Linked DNA regions of Homo sapiens: region 2 is linked to region 1. Evidence: fine-mapped expression QTL. A gene starts in region 1. The other region holds a variant in brackets. All regions are shown on one strand. Distances are from middle to middle. Region 1 holds the start of CUL4B (cullin 4B). Region 2 has its middle 33 kb from the start of C1GALT1C1.

The links. PIP is the estimated chance that this variant, and not a neighbour inherited with it, causes the effect.
Region 2: its variant is fine-mapped to the expression of CUL4B in esophagus mucosa (GTEx, PIP 0.96).

Annotation. Positions count from the first base shown.
Region 1 is chrX:120,559,969-120,562,879 of GRCh38, forward strand. It overlaps CUL4B (cullin 4B), which reads right to left and starts at 994. Exons shown (of 20, transcript NM_001079872.2): 1 at 115-994. The coding sequence starts at 670. RefSeq lists enhancers at 63-948, 946-1,240, 949-1,833 and silencers at 1,214-1,293, 1,594-1,643.
Region 2 is chrX:120,661,491-120,664,401 of GRCh38, forward strand. No RefSeq gene overlaps it. Among named protein-coding and RNA genes, the nearest start is that of C1GALT1C1, 33 kb to the left of the region's middle. The variant CTTGT/C (reference allele first, on the strand shown) is at 1,318.

The sequences.
Region 1 (2,911 bases):
TGCATAAAACATTAGGCCACCTCCAAACTGTTTAATATATTAACATAAATAGAGCACGTGACCCCTCGAGTGTCAAATCCTTATTAGGTGATTATGGATTTTGGCCTTGGTTACCTTTAAAGTTCTTGATCACTAACTTCTTAGCAGAGCCAGGTTTGCTGTTAGCAAAGCTAGAGACGGTGGTAGAAGATTTGGCTAGGCCGTTTGCATGATGCACCGAAGCCACAGAAGAGATTAATATACTCTTATTTTTAAGTTGCTGCTGCTGAGATGTTGCAGCAGTTGGTGAAGATGAGGAGGAGGAGGAGGAGGATTCCTCAGCCATCTTCGCATCAAACCCTACAAACTCCAGGGTGTCTTCAAAACGCAGCTTCTTCTGTATCGGTACGTGGCTGGAAGCAGCCACTGAAACCCCCAGGCAGAAGGACGAGGTTGAAGGGGATGCCGAATCCCTGGGTTGTAAAGGAGGAGTGGAAGAGGAGGAAGAGGTGGAATCAAAGTCTTCTCTCTCGTTACTACTGTTACTGCTGCTACTGCTGCTGCTGTTTAACTTTCTCTTCTTGGCAGAGGTGGGCGGAGTGGTGCTGGTATTACCATCAGTGGCAGATCTGACCTCCTGAGCAGCAGCAGCAGCTGAGGGACTGGGGGAAGAAAAACCTGTTGGAAACATGAAAATAGCGGGGTCAACAGGCAGAGGAGCATCAAAAACCTACGTTTATATGCCTGCGTGCGTGTAGGAGAGAAGGTAGCAATGCTAGAGGGGGAAGGGAAGAAAGAAGAGAGGAGAAACACAGAGGACGAGAAGGAAAGTGAAGGGGGGGGCTACACCGGGGGAATGGGAGGGTTTGGGAAGGCGGATAGGCTGACACCAGGAGTGAGCAGAACGAGGGGGGAGAGCGAATGAGGAGGCAGACAGGTAAACGGCCGTGCCGTCCCCCTCCCCTGCTTTTCGATCTCTCTCCCCCCCTTTCTGCAGGAGCGACTCAGCGAGTCTGTGAGGCTGCAGCTCCTCCTCCTTTTCTCCCTCTCCCTGGGAGGGGAGAGGCTGTGGTTGGGGGAAAGGGGGAGGGGGAAAGAACCAGGGCTTGTTATTGTCAATAGCACAAGAGGCTAAAGATGGCGCCATTTCCGGTCACGCGGCGCCGAGGGAGGGGCGGTGTCAACCTCAGGGAGTGGGGGTGAGGGAAGCGCTGCAGCCGCCCGGGGGGCGGGGGAGCTCGCGCGTGAGGGGGCGGCTGGAAAGGGGCGGCTAAAGTGCCCCAGACGCTCGCGCTAGTTCGCTCCTGCTCCCGCTCCCCTTCGCGATCCCCTTTCCTGGCAGCGCCTTCCTTCCCTGGCCCACCGGGAACTCCCACTCCCTCCTTAACGGTCCCGCGGGAAGCTTCGCGCCGCAGCGCCCTTACCGGAAGTGACTGGGCAGACACTTTTCATAGCGCCCAGATCCCGAAGCCCCCAGGTCCGCAGGACTTGAGTGGGGGGGGGAAGGGGGGAGGGAGAAATTGGGGGGAAGAAAAGTGGATAGGAGGAGGGGGCGGGCCTTCGAGACACCTTCGGAGCTCCTGATTGGAGCTTTCTGAAGGCGAGGGGGTGGGGGGGGTGGCGGGAGGAGCGGGAAGGAGCCTCGGGGGAGGGAAGGTAGTGACGGCGAGGGGCGGAGTGAGCTAGCTGGGAAAACGGAGGAGGAGGAAGAGGAGGAGAGAGGGAGGGACGGAATAAAACGTAAGGGTCCGGGAGAATAGAAACTTTGAAAGAGATGAAAGAATAAGGAGTGGTTGCAAGGCTAGGGGAGTAACCCTAAATAGAGGAAAACATAATCATGCCATTATGCCCGCTGCTGGAGAGGAATGTCCCTATGTTAAGATAGGAAAGGAGAAGAAAACGAGCTAAGATAGGAAGAAAAGGACTTTTTAATTCGGTGCCGGTATAAATTGTTTCTCTTTTATCTCAAGGCACCACAGACCCAAGGCTGAATAAGGCCTGAATTTTGATGCCTTTCTCTTTCATGTAGCTGTAAATCCTTTTATCTTACTACCAGGAGCATTTTCTAAGCTGGCTGGCCAAATTAAGTGTGTATTCTAAGGCGAAGAAATGGAAAGGTAACTAACCCCTCACCCACCCAGCACTATGCCCAGGATCGTCCTAACCCCCACTCTATCAGTCCTTAACTCAGTAATTTATAGACCCAACAAAGCTAAGACCCACTTCCTTCTTTTGCCAAATCTCAGTTTACACGCTGTCCCAAAGGAGACATTTTAGAACCATATCGGCAAAAGTCAGTGTTTTCTACTAATGTGTTTCATGACCCCATGCTTTACAATTGATTATTGATTTAAAAAATCTTTAAGTTTGGTTAAATTAGCAACAATAAACCTTGTAAATTCCCTGTTGGGAGTTTTTACTTAACCTTGGGGCATTCTCAGAGGGAGGTAACACAATATCAAAAACTAAATTTGCCAACCTGTTGATCATTCTAACTGCAAAAGCATTCAGTTAGCATGTATGGTAAGACTATGCAAGGTCTCTGCCCTTGAGAAGCCAGTAGGGGAAGATAGTTTCAAAACTAATTTCCATAACAATAATATGACATATATACAAAGTGCTGTCAGAAGAGGCAAAACAAGAAATTTGGGAGAAATCTGGAATAGGAAGAGTTCTACAGAGATTATGTTTATGCTGTGTCTCAAAGTGGGAGTTGCCAAAAAGAGAAGAGGGAACAGGATGAAAGGCATTCTGGGGAACGGAAACAAGGGCAAAGCAAGGAGTGAAAGGGCCAGGCCTGTTTATGGAAACATGGAAAGTGCAGTGAGGCTGGGAAGTAGGATGTCTGGCTGGGAGTAAGGAAGATGAGGCTCAAAAGTGCCTGGCACACCAAGCCAAGAATTTGGAGTCTACTCTGTAGGCGATCATAGAT
Region 2 (2,911 bases), 100 kb after region 1:
TCAATTGTGCCCAGGAAGCGTAGGCTGCAGTGAGCTATGATTGTGTCACTGTACCCTAGCCTGGGTGACAGATCAAGACCCTGTCTCTAAAATAAAAAAAAAATTAAAAACTGAATCTATCTAAACGAGCAGCAATGATTTATCATCAGCTAGCACATCAGATAACATTTGAGTGGAGAAAAATGGGCTGTTATCTAAATCCTTCAAACAGGCTAGGTGCAATGGCTCACACCTGTAATCCCAGCACTTTGGGAGGCCAAGGCGGGCGGATCACCTGAGGTCATGAGTTCAAGACCAGCCTGGCCACCATGGGGAAACCCCATCTCTACTAAAAAATACAAAAATTAGCAGGGCGTGGTGGCAGGCACCTGGAATCCCAGCTACTGGGGAGGCTGAGGCAGGGAGAATCACTTGAACCCGGGAGGTGGAGGTTGCAGTGAGCCGAGATCCCACCACTGAACTCCAGCCTGGGTGATAGAGCGAGACTCCATCTCAAAAAAAAAAAAAAAAAAAAAAAAAAAAGGCCAGGCGCAGTGGCTTAGACCTGTCATCCCAGTACTTTGGGAGGCCGAGGCAGGTGGATCACGAGGTCAAGAGATCGAGACCATCTTGGCCAACATGGTGAAACCCCATCTCTACTAAAAATACAAAAAATTAGCTGGGTGTGGTGGCGCACGTCTGTAGTCCCAACTACTCGGGAAGCTGGGGCAGGAGAATCACTTGAACCTGGGAGGCAGAGGTTGCAGTGAGCCGAGATCGCGCCACTGCACTCCAGCCTGGCACTGGAGATTCCGTCTCAAAAAAAATAAAATAAAATAAAAATAAATAAATAAATAAAAAATAAAAAAAATCCTTCAAACAAAGGACATGCGTAATTAATTCAGTTTCCTCAAAGTGATCAGTTTTGGAGAATCAGGACACAAAAGTCCAAAAAGGATAGATTAACTTTTTAAAATATTTTTCCCCGCTAGCAAAGAATAAATTTTATATTGGTACCCTTGAGGTTTACTACCGTTTAGAAAGCCAATCATTTGGGGCCTTGTCCATTGTTTTTGCATGCCAGATGACGTTGCCAGCACGTTTAGTAAACAATACATTGTAATTCTCAGAAGGTTGACTGCAACCTTCTTCTGTAGCCTTTCTTACCTCCCTGAAAGTTCCCTTTGTTTTTCAAGATTACACGAAGACTCAATCGCAATCACGTATCATGATGGAGTTTTATTTCTTCTCAGCATGCTGTAACAGGCTGTTTGATTTTCTGGGTTTGGGCTATCTCCTCTACAAAACTATAAGTTCCGGGGAAGGGATCTTGTTTGT[CTTGT/C]TTATCTCTCTATTCCCAATGACTAACATAGGGCTTAGCATATTGTAAGTGTGATGGTAATTTTATGTGTCAATTTGATTAGCTTAAGGGATGCCCAGAGAGCAGGTAAAACATTATTTTTGGGTGTGCCTGTGAGGGCGTTTCCAGAAGAGATTAGCATTTGAATTGGTAGAGTGTAAAAAGAAGGTTATCCTCATTAATGTGGGTGGCCATCATACAATTTATTGAAGACCTGAATTTGGAGGAAGAGTCAATTCACTCTCTTGAGCTGGGACATCCGTCTTCTCTCACACATCAGAGCTCCTTGGTTCTCAGGCCTTCAGATGCAGACTGAATTATCCCACTGGCTTTTCTGGTTCTCCAGCTTGCAGAAAGCTAACCATGGGACTCTTTGACCTCCATAATTGTGTGAGCCAATTCCTACAACTGAGTCTCTCTTCCTATTAATACATACATAGATATAAATATATTTTATTGTTTCTGTTTCTCTGGAGTACCCTGACTAACACAGTAAGGTGTTACATACATATTTGTTGAATGAATGAGTGAAACTTATAAAGGCTAAGCTAACTTGCCTATTGTTAAATAGCTATTAAGTGACTGATCCAAGACTTGAACTAGGCTAGCTAATAGTAGACCCCAAGTTGTAACCACCATACCAGACTATCACTGTTCTTTTTTGCAACTGAACCATGTCAAAGGCCATAGAGTAATTGCTAGGGAACTTAGAATCAGCTTTTCCCTCTCCTCTCTTTTCCCCTTTCTTTCCCTCCCTCCCTCCCTCCCTTCCTTCCTTCCTTCCCTCCCTCCCTCCCTCCTTTTCTTCTAAGATCTGGAAGGGCTATTTGAGGTCATCTTGTTCAACCTGCACATTTTACAAAGGAGAACCCTAGAGTTGAATCAGTCACGCGGCTTGCCTAAAGGCAATAAGTTAGTGGCAGACTTAATAGATAAGTTTAGCTTTCGTGGTGGGCATCATTCTAACAAAATCAATGGAGATCTAATTTATTTCATTCTTGTTTACCCAATATCTGTTTATTATAACTAGATTAGTCATGCCACTAACCTGGGACTGTGTCTTGCTCATTTCTACCTAAGTGGCATAGACCACACTGGTTCCTTTGCTGGGGATTTATTCTTTTTTCCTACATCGATCTATTTTATTCATCCTTCAAGCCCTAGCTCTGTTCTCCCCTCCTCCATACAGACTTCTCTGGCTCATTGCAAACTCATACAGCACTCTGCATTTGGTCTTTAATCACACATTACCATGTATTTTCATTTAAATGTTCTCAGGTATGTCTTTCCCACAGGCTCCCCCCACCACAAGCTCATCAAGAGCAGGATCTATATCACATGTAAACCTCTTTTGTAATCCTCTAGACTCCTAGAAAAGCACTAGACACATAGTAGACACTCAGGGAATAATTCTTGAATGAATGAATGAATAAATGATATAAACAAGAAAAAAAATGAAATGGTAAACTCTGCCATCTTGTGGTTATTCATCTTTGGTGTTGTCATTTTCACTGTATTTTTTTAGTGTTGAAATTAGAAAAGCATCACATGGTAAGAAACTAAGGTGATGAT